2 separate regions of the Homo sapiens genome follow, and region 2 is linked to region 1. Evidence: fine-mapped expression QTL. Tissue or cell type: whole blood. Region 1 holds a variant in brackets; the other region holds the start of a gene. All regions are shown on one strand. Distances are from middle to middle. Region 1 overlaps RAVER2 (ribonucleoprotein, PTB binding 2). Region 2 holds the start of RAVER2 (ribonucleoprotein, PTB binding 2).

Region 1 (5,381 bases):
TAAATAATATATATTTTAATATATATTTAATATTAAATAATATATTTATTTATATACATATATAGATATGTACTCCAACTCCAAAATTTCTACTGCAATACTAGGAAATCAACAAATGTATGATTAAAGAAAAGATGCAAAGGAGGAGAGGAAACAACAGAGGTAAGAGGAAAAGGAGCGTGGATGGGAAGGGAGTGCGGTAAAAAGGAAAACGGAGAAGGAAGAAATGGAGAGAAACAAGAGAGAAATAATTGATCAGTTGCTATCAAAACTCTGTAAGGAAAAGTGTTATATATAGTATATATATATATATTTATTAGAATGTATTTAATTTTACTATGATAAAGTGCTTGAAAAGTCTCGCCAGTGTTATCAGTTTTCAGGATCTTCTCTAGATGTCTCACCTACCGTGACCACATTAAGATAGAACTACACATTCCTTTTAAACTTCATAGTACTTTTCTATCCTCCATTATATCACTCTTCATATAGGATTTGCAATTATTTGCTTACTTGTCCGTCTCTTCTACAAAATTGTGAGGTATTGAGATAGAGTATCTTTCCATTCTCTGCCTTTCTGACACTTGGCATAGTGTCTGGTACACAGAAGATGGTAAATAAAAGTTGGATAGATAAATGGATTGATGGAAAAATGGTGGGACGAATGGATGGAATGAGGTGAATGAGTAAGCAATGGATTTGCTAAGGCATACTTAACTACATAACAACATACTTTGGCCCATAAACAGAGGAACTGATTTAAAATTTCCCATGAGATCAAAGTCTTCCCTACAGAATGATGCAGAATTAAATTTCCATTGTGTTAATCACACAGGTATGATAAATTTGTGAGTGTATGTAGATTAGATACATATGTATATATTTTAAAATATTTCAATAATCTCTTAAAAATACATACCTGGCAAAACACAGGTTTATGGACACTGGAAAAAATTTGCAACAGCTCTTCTGAATCCCTGTAGTCACTGGGGAGTTTATCAATACAAAGGCACTTAGAATGAATGAGCTCTGAAGCCAATAGATTAACATCCATCCATTGTGCAAAGAGTGCTGATGCTCCCAACTGTCTACCCAATAGCTCCAGTCTAGCCTTTGCAGCAAAGTCCTTTTTCATGTATTCCACAAATCCATAGCCTTTGGAATGGCCAGTAACTTCACTATAGACCAGAAAACATCTCTCAATATTTCCATAAGCACGAACAAGTTCTTCAAACTCTTCTGATGTAAAAGAAATGGGCACGTTGGTAATACACAACAAAGCATCTGTTGGCTGAAGCTGGACTATTAAGTCTTTTCCTCTAAAAGAATATTGATGAAACATCTGAATTGCGTTCTGGGCTTGTTCCCCATTCAATAAGGTAACAAAAGCTGGAAGATAACGAAATGAATTAAAGAGTTTTCAAATTGTTTGAAAACACAGTAAGAAATATATCTTACTTCTGTGACTTGGTACACATAAACATACACCTTTTTTCTGAAACAAAATTATAAGTTAATACCCCTACTATATGCAATGCATTGTGACATTTTTTATTCTATTTCAGTGCGTTTTTTAATGCTGACACCTCCATTAAACTAATTTCATCAACAGTAACCCAAAATAGAAAGTACAGGGATTATATTAGGAGTTTCACTGTAAAATCCTATGATATTCTGGGGGGTTTTTGGTAGTCTTTTCCAATCACACACATATTTGATTTCCTCCCACCCAAAAACCTGTGATATAAAATTTTATGAAGACTTTATATAAAACTTAACTGAAATAAAAATGAAGTTACAAAATCTTTCTTTCTTCCTAGAAAGAGTTCTAAAAGAGCCTATTTGACAGCAAGGACCTGAAAAAATGAAGGTACAGCAAAAACATCAAAATGCATAAAGGAGGCCATTTCTTTCTCCAATTCATGTATATATTTCCTTAATATCAGATTAGATTGACATAACACACAGACACTTTTAATTTGGTACACTTTTGATGAATAATATCAAATGAAAAGGTTACAGGATTCTGATCTTAAGACAAGATCTTGAATATTCATAAAACAATAAAAATAGTCTGCCCTGTCTAGCTAATGAAGTTGTTCCAGCATCAAGCAACAAATGCATATGACGGCTTATATAACTGGAAACATAATACAAATATAACATTCTAAATCAATGAAATATTATGTACATTCATATCTGGTAAAATTACATTTTAACCATATCAATTTGTTTACCTTTTGCAATAAAAGAATATAAAAGGTTTTGAGCAATTTTATAGGAAAAGTTTAAAGCCCCCATTAAAAAATACATAGCAATCCACAAATTACAAATAAATTGCTCTCTACAAGTTCCTCTCCCTCTCCCTCTGAAATATATAGTGAAGTTACTCCATATGAACATTTAATTTACCCAAATTCAATTAGAACTGCATGACAATATGTTGTATACAGCAAATATGGATATAGCAAGAGACAGAGAAGTAATTTAAGTAGCATGGGCAATTCTGCCTGTCATTTCACTAAACTTCTCTGCCCTCAATTGGTCTTAGTGCCATGCGGCTCTCAGAGTAAGAGCATCTCACCACACTAAGTGTGATGCTAACATTTAAAGAAACACATTTTTCATTTAACACATGTCCCACACGCAAGAAAACTATTGCCAAAGGAACAGCTAACTGTTCCAACATCTCTTCCAAAAAATGAGAAAAAATGGCTTTACTGCCCTTATTAAAAGGCTATCTCTTAGTTTCTAACAATCTTTTTTAAAAGGCTTGATTTTGATTCTATGTCTTTTTTCCTTATGCTGACATAAAATACAATTTAATTCTGTTTCCCTAAAACAAACGAGCCAACAACAGTTTGTAAATACTGGTTATATTCTCGTATCAGCCCATAAAATCTCAGGTCATATTTAACTTGAATTCTCAGGGCATTTGAACCTGTTAATCATTCCCTTTCTTAACTTTCTTTCCTTTTTTTTTTTTTTTTTTGAGACAAGAGTCTGACTCTGTTGCCCAGGCTGGAGTGCAGTGGTGCCGATCTCAGCTCATCACAACCTCTGCCTCCCAGGTTCAAGCAATTCTCTTGCTTCAGCCTCTCAAGTAGCTGGGACTACAGGGCCTGCCACCACGCCTGGCTAATTTTTGTATTTTTAGTAGAGATGGGGTTGCGCCATGTTGGTCAAGCTGGTCTCGAACTCCTGACCTCAAGTGATCCACCAA[C/A]CTCAACCTCCCAAAGTGCTGGGATTATAGGCCTGAGCCACTGCACCAGGCCTTTCTTAACTTTCTTGATGTACTCTTTCTTGATTTGCTTCATAACTGTCCAAGCTCTTTCTTCTATTTCCTTTGCTAGCTCTTTCTCCTCCACTCACAGCTGTAAGGTAGTACTCCTTGGGGTGCCTTCCTGGCAGAGTCACACACAGTAACACCTGTGTGGCCACATGTGTTACTCAATGTGTGGCCGCTGAATATCTTTTTTCGCACTCTACACCCTCTTCCTCTGGGGGCAATCACACCCATTCCCATGTATTCCGTATCATGTGCCAGATTCCAAGTTTGGCACTGGAAATGTTTTGGTGAACAGAACAGGTAAGATCCCTTTCAACACAGAGCTCACAATCTAATAGGGGAAGCTAGACATTTAACAAAGAGTTACAAATGTGGTGTCCCCAAAGGGGAAGTATGAGGGGCTATGAAAGCAATGAGCAAAATAATCTCATCTGAGGACTTGCAAAAGGCCTCCCATACCATTATACTCCCCAATCTATCTTTCTAACCTTTAGTGCCACATATATCTTCATATTGACTCCCAAACATAACTCACGATTTTCATCCTATCTCTGCCAAAAAACAAAACGATTAGGAAAAGAGGAAGTCAAATTCTCTCTGTTTGCAGATGACATGATTGTATATTTAGAAAACCCCATCATCTCAGCCCACAATCTCCTTAAGCTGATAAGCAACTTCAGCAACGTCTCAGGATACAAAATCAATGTGGGAAAATCACAAGCGTTCCTATACACCAATAACAGACAAACAGAGAGCCAAATCATGAGGAAACTCCCATTCACAATTCCTACAAAGAGAATAAAATACCTAGGAATACAATTTACAAGGGATGTGAAGGACCCCTTCAAGGAAAACTACAAACCACTGCTCAATGAAATAAGAGAGGACACAAACAAATGGAAAAACATTCCATGCTCATGGATAGGAAGAATCAATATCGTAAAAATGGCCATACTGCCCAAAGTAATTTATAGATTCAATGCTATCCCCATCAAACTACCAATGACTTTCTTCACAGAATTGGAAAAAACTACTTTAAATTTCATATGGAACCAAAAAAGAGCCAACACAGCCAAGACAATCCTAAGCAAAGAGAACAAAGCTGGAGGCATCAGGCTACCTGACTTCAAACTACACTACAAGGCCACAGTAGCCAAAACAGCATGGTACTGGTACCAAAACAGATACACAGACCAATGGAACAGAACAGAGGCCTCAGAAATAACACCACACATCTACAACCATCTGATCTTTGACAAACCTGCCAAAACAAGCGATGGGGAAAGGATTCCCTATTTAAGAAAGGGATTGGGAAAACTGGCTAGCCATAAGCAGAAAGCTGAAACTGGATCCCTTTCTTACACCTTATACAAAAATTAACTCAAGGTGGATTAAAGACTTAAACGTAAGACCTAAAACCATAAAAACCCTAGAAGAAAACCTAGGCAATACCATTCAGGACATAGGCATGGGCAAAGACTTCATGACTAAAACACCAAAAGCAATGGCAACAAAAGCCAAAATTGACAAATGGGGTCTAATTAAACTAAAGAGCTTCTGCACAGCAAAAGATTATCAGCAGAGTGAATAGGCAACGTACAGAACGGGAGAAAATTTTTGCAATCTATCCATCTGACAAAGGGCTAATATATCCAGAATCTACAAAAAACTCAAACAAATTTACAAGAAAAAAACAACCCCATCAAAAAGTGGGCAAAGGGTATGAACAGACACTTCTCAAAAGAAGACATTTATGCAGCCAACAGACACATGAAAAAATGCTCATCATCACTGGTCATCAGAGAAATGCAAATCAAAACCACAATGAGATACCATCTCACACCAGTTAGAATGGCGATCATTAAAAAGTCAGGAAACAACAGATGCTGGAGAGAATGTGGAGAAATAAGAATGCTTTTACACTGTTGGTGGGAGTGTAAATTAGTTCAACCACTGTGGAATACAGTGTGGCGATTCCTCAAGGATCTAGAACTAGTAATATCATTTAACCTAGCTATCCCATTACTGGGTATATACCCAAAGGATTATAAATCATTCTACTATAAAGACACATGTGCACGTATGTTTATTG
Region 2 (5,381 bases), 32 kb after region 1:
AATAAAATAAAGTGAAACTTTCATCAGTAAGTTGACAGTAAAATATAGTCACTAAGAAAAAGCAGACATTATAATTAAGGGAAATTGTTAAAACAAAAAATACAAAAAAATTCATGCAGAACATATGAAAATATTAGTTTAAGTAGATGAAATCTCAAAAATACAAATCCCAGTGTAATTCTGAGAAAGCTTCTATCACTAATTAAAACTGCTCCTTTTATTAGACCCTTTGATATATTTTTCATGTCTATTGCGAAGGGAAATGAGAAAGATACCAACAGCAAAGCAAGAATAGACAGAACGTCTTCAATTTGGGGTCTAAATATATTTAGAATTAATGCAAGGAATTGTGATAACAAAAACAGCTGACATTCTACAAAGACATTGAGATACTTCTCTATTTCTCTCCTCCTAGACTGTCTATACAAAGAGCTGCTATTTTTTAAATTTGTTTTTTTAAAAAATGCCATCTGCTTCTTCCAAGCCTCCTCCTTCCTGAGCTCCCTTACAGTCCTCTATTTGTATGGGCAGGGGAGGCTGCTTCCAAGAAATCAGTCCATTGCAGGTGTCCTTAACAGGTAGTATCACAAAACATTACCTGACAGATGGGAAGTGGACCATGGCGGAATGGAAAGAGTTGAAAGACAGATGAGATAAACAATACTGACAGACACTGCATTTTGAAACAAAATAGCCCCCCATGCCTACGGGTTATAAGGTTATATGTTCATATTTATTGTGAATGGCTATGTAAGGTCTCATTACATAGTAATGGGGCATTGGTCTCATTATTTTATAAGTCACATGGAAGAACTGCCATGCAATTGTCAATAGCCAGCCCTCTTGCAATTTCATGCATCCGGTTACAGGAGGAACTACAAATCCGCAACTACCAGGACAGCCCACCACACTCGGAGCAGTATATAAATTCAGGTTATATGTGAAACATGTGTGAACATCCAGACAGCTAAGAAATCCTGAAGAATCAAAGAAATGATTTCAAGCTTTTGATAAAACAAAAATATATATGCATAGGAAAAGAGAAAAGAACAACATCCCAGGATAACAATGGTTATCTTCAGGTATCAGAAATATGGGTAATTTCTGTGTCCCCTTTGTGCTTCTCTGTCTTTCCTAGCTCTCCTACAATGAGCATGCAGCTTTTGAAATCAGGGGAAAAAAAAAGTTAAATAGATGCAGAGTTTCTAATCTTAAAAGCAACAGTTAATCTGGATTAAATACACAGAGTAGCTATCTTTAAACCTCATCCAAGTCACTGAGAACAAACCCTCCAGTACTGTACTTGGCGTAGCAGGAGGCGGCTGCAAGGCTCCAAGGAGCGCAGCAATAACTCTATTCTGGGGCCTTAGCAAACTGAGAAGACAGAGTTGTTTCATAGAAACTTGGGCAAGTGCTTCTGCAACAACAGCGAAACTCACTCCCAGCTCTCTCGTGCCCCTGCCCCCTATGGCACTCCCGAGCACCGGGGACTATACGTTGGAGCCCTCGCCCCTGCCAAGGTGCTCCCGAAGCTTCGGCCCCCTCTACCCCCGCTCCCCCCCGCAAAATGTGTGCTCCACAACTCACCTCCACTCTCCTTCACCTCCTACTCCTCTACGGCCGTAGGGGAAGGAAAGACCGGGCCGAACTTGGAGGCAGCAGCCCCTGATTCCCGTGACCTTGGAGAAGCCGCTTCGCCACTCAGAGCCTCAGTTTCCCAATCTGCCCCCCTCCCTGGCAGGGCGTCTGCAGGCTAGAAACCCCAAGAACTCAGTCAAACCGAGGGGCCGCTCTCACCACTCGGCGCCGACCCACTCCCCAGGACCGCTCTGAGGCGCCCCCGATCCCAGCCTGGACACGGAGCGCCGCCCCGCCGCCCCTCGGGACGCGTCGCCCCTATCACCGTCCCAGTACCTGGCAGTTGCTGTCCTGGGGCAGGTTTTTCACCAGGATTTTCCTGCGGTTGCTCAGCTCCCGCTGCATCCGCTGCAGTCGCGCGGCGACCTCCTCAGGGTGCAGCGCGGCGGGCATCGGGTCCGGGGCGCCCTCGTGCGCTTCGGCTGAGGGGCCCTGCCCGCGCAGCCCCGGCCCCGGCCCCAGCCCCGCCGCGCTGCCCAGGCCCGCGCCCCCCTCGCCGCCGCCGTCTCCCGCCGCCGCCGCCATCTTCCCGGGCGCCCAGCGGCTGCGGACTCCTCGGAGGCTCCAGGGGAAGCGGAGAGAGAAAGCGGGAGGAGGCCCGGGCGAGGGCGAGGCGGGCAGAGGCCGCAGAGTGGGCCCAACCGCGGGGAAGGGGGGCGGTGGGAGGAGGGAGTAGAGAGAGGCGGCGCCGCAGCCAGCAGCCTGCTGGCGGGGAGAGGAAACCTGAGGCGCCGAGGAGGAGCCCGAGAACCACCTCGCGGGAACCTCCCCCGCCGGCCCCCGGCCCCGGCGCACAGGCGCGCCCGCGCCCGCCTCTCGCGGGTCCGCAGGCGGGGCCGGGCGCCGCCACCCGGACACCTGTGAGGGCGCGGACGCGCAGGCGGGCTCCCCCTCTCTGCGAGGCCTTCGCGAACGCCCAGGGTCGTTCTCTGGGGGATGCGGCCCCTTCGCGGTGGCTTCGCCGGGAGACTCAGCCCCAGGCGCCTGTCCCCGGCTGGCCCCCCATGTGACGCCGCAGCTCTCCCCCGGCTCCCCTCGAAACTCCCGCGCTGGGGCGGCCCGGGGGCTGCGGGCGCGAACTCGGTCTTCCCACACCCGAGATGGGGCTGGAGGGGTGGCAGGAGGGCGCCTCCTGCAGCCCGGCTGGCTCCCGATGGTAACCCTTCTGTTGGTTCAAGAAGAGCATATTTGGCAAAGTTTGAGTTTACAATGAGATTTTCTGGGGAGTAAAAAGAGGGACATTGTGGGAGAAATGTTATGTATTTGGTAAAACCTGATCGTAATGTATTTTGCTAGCTGTGTATGAGAAAGCCTGTGCCCTTCACCTGTCCCTCTGTCCCTGTCATGCAGTTCCTAAAATGTAAAACCTGGGTAGTTGGGTCTGCAACATGGAAAGTGATGCTGAAACAAAGACTAGAATGGAAAAGGAGCTGTGGCAGAGGGGCTGGAGAATACGCTGCTTGGAACATTATTTTAATTGAAACTTGGAGGGAGAGTTACAGTGTAGAACTATACTTAGTCAAACGGATGTCATCAGATCAAACAATCCAGCAGCCTTTGGCACTAGCCCAGGTGACCATCAGCGAAGGGGACCATGCATCTTAATTGTGTAGCATGCAAGTACACTAGCAAAAAAAAAAAAAAAAAAAAAAAAAAGACTTTAACACTAATTAAAAGAAAAACAAAATGTTTTAAAGATTTTTTAAAAATACTACAAATTCAGTCCTTACCATGTGCTCCCCCCAACCACGCATTTCTAAATGCTTTACATATACATATTTATTTACTCTTCATGATCATTCAATTACGTAGGTTTTGTTTTCCTCACTTTACACGTGAGGAAATGGGATCTGTTCTGATTGATTCCAAAGCCCAGTGTTCTGAATAACATAAAATAATTCACCCGTAATCCGTCCACCCAAAAATAATGGCTGCTAATACTTGTATCATTAAAATGATATTCGGCAATACACCCTTCTATACCACCACTATTCCTGGTAACCAAAGGATAGAAACAACCCAAATGTCCATTTATTGATGAACAGATAGGCAAAGCGTGGGATATATATATGCTAAGAAATATTTTTAGCCATAAAAAGGAATTAAGGACCCCTACAAGGTGGACGAACCTCCAAAGCATTAAATGAAAGAAGCCAGAGACAAAAGGTCATATATTGTATGATTCCATGCGTATAAAATATCAGAATAGGTAGATTCATAGAGCGGAACACAGATTGGTGTTTACCAAGGGCTGGAGGAGAAGGTAATGGGTGCAAACATCCTTATGGAATGATGAAAATCTAGTTTTGGAACTAGACAGAGGGGGCAGTAGCCCAATAATATGAATGTACTAAATAGTCACTGAACTATTCACTTTTAAAATATTAATTTTATTACGTGACTATTACTGCATAAAAATGTTTTTGAATGATATTCTGTAGTTTACAGCTCTGTTTTCTGCTTTTTACAGTATGTCTGCTGAATCCCTTTCTATGCCAATGTATTTGAATACCATGGTTTTTATGGCTGCATATTATTCTGTTGAATTAGAAAATTCACTTATTTCCTAGCATTAGTATTTCCTATTATTTTTATCTATTGTAAACAGCACTGAGTTTAACCCTCTATACATATTTGAAGATCATTACTTTTCCACAGAGTGAAGAACTAGAAGCAAAATTTCTGCATCTAGAGTAAGCATATTTAAGGATTTTTTGTATGTATTTACAAACTTACCTCAGTTTTCCCTATCACAAGCATTGTATAAGAGCACTTATTTCTCTGCTTGCATCCATGATATTCTAGTATTAATGTATCATTTTGCTTTTAAATTGTATTCCTTTGATTTTAAAAGGTATACATTTTAAACTCCAATAAGGCCCTATTTTGTAGAGCTGAGAGACTTTGAAAAGTACATTCTTTGAAGTGAAGAAGCATGAATAGCCTTAGCATAGGCTGTAACCTTGAGTCATTCATTATGTTTCAGAACATGTATTTATCCAAATGAGTACCACCTCCTTGGCAAACATTTATTAAATGTCCCTTATGTGCTAGATAATATATAAAGGCAATAAGAAGACAGAAATAGTAAAATAATGCTCCTGTACAATAGGGGCTAAGTCTCACTGAGAGAAAATTATGCAATGATTATAATTAAATATAATAAATATGCAAACGGATAGTGGTCTGAATATAACTTCAGTGATTGCTTTTGCTCAAAACATTCTCCAAAGTGCTTTTTTTTTTTCTTTTGTGACGGAGTCTTGCTCTGTTGCCCAGGCTGGAGTGCAGTGGCGTGATCTTGGCTCACTGCAACCTCCGCCTCCCAGGTTCAAGCGATTCTCCTGCCTTACCCTCCAGAGTAGCTGGGACTACAGGCGTGTGCCACCAAGCCCAGCTAATTTTTTGTATTTTTAGTAGAGACGGGGTTTCACCATGTTAGCCAGGATGGTCTTGATTTCCTGACCTCATGATCCGCTCGCCTCGGCCTCCCAAAGTGCTGGGATTACAGGCGTGAGCCACCACGCCCAGCCCCAAAGTGCTTTTTTGGAATTGACTTTATAATCTACAGCAAATTATTCTGCATAGTTTATGTGGTAGCAAATACTCACCTCTTAGAGATGGGTTTAATTTTTGGAAATAATTAAATGTTATTTGAGGTTAAGTCTGGTGAATGAATCAGGTGTTGATTATGTTTTGGGAGTTATGATAATGTAATTCCAGTTTTGGCCCCAATGGGGACA

The links.
Region 2: it holds the start of RAVER2, and the variant in region 1 is fine-mapped to the expression of RAVER2 in whole blood (TOPMed, PIP above 0.99). The same link has a PIP of 0.9 or more in visceral fat.

The regions. Positions count from the first base shown.
Region 1 is chr1:64,773,631-64,779,011 of GRCh38, reverse strand. RAVER2 (ribonucleoprotein, PTB binding 2) reads right to left here. Exons shown (of 12, transcript NM_001366165.2): 3 at 920-1,389. Among named protein-coding and RNA genes, the nearest start is that of RAVER2, 31 kb to the right of the region's middle. The variant C/A (reference allele first, on the strand shown) is at 3,224.
Region 2 is chr1:64,741,955-64,747,335 of GRCh38, reverse strand. It overlaps RAVER2 (ribonucleoprotein, PTB binding 2), which reads right to left and starts at 2,261. Exons shown (of 12, transcript NM_001366165.2): 1 at 1,915-2,261. The coding sequence starts at 2,163. RefSeq lists silencers at 2,288-2,487, 2,508-2,607.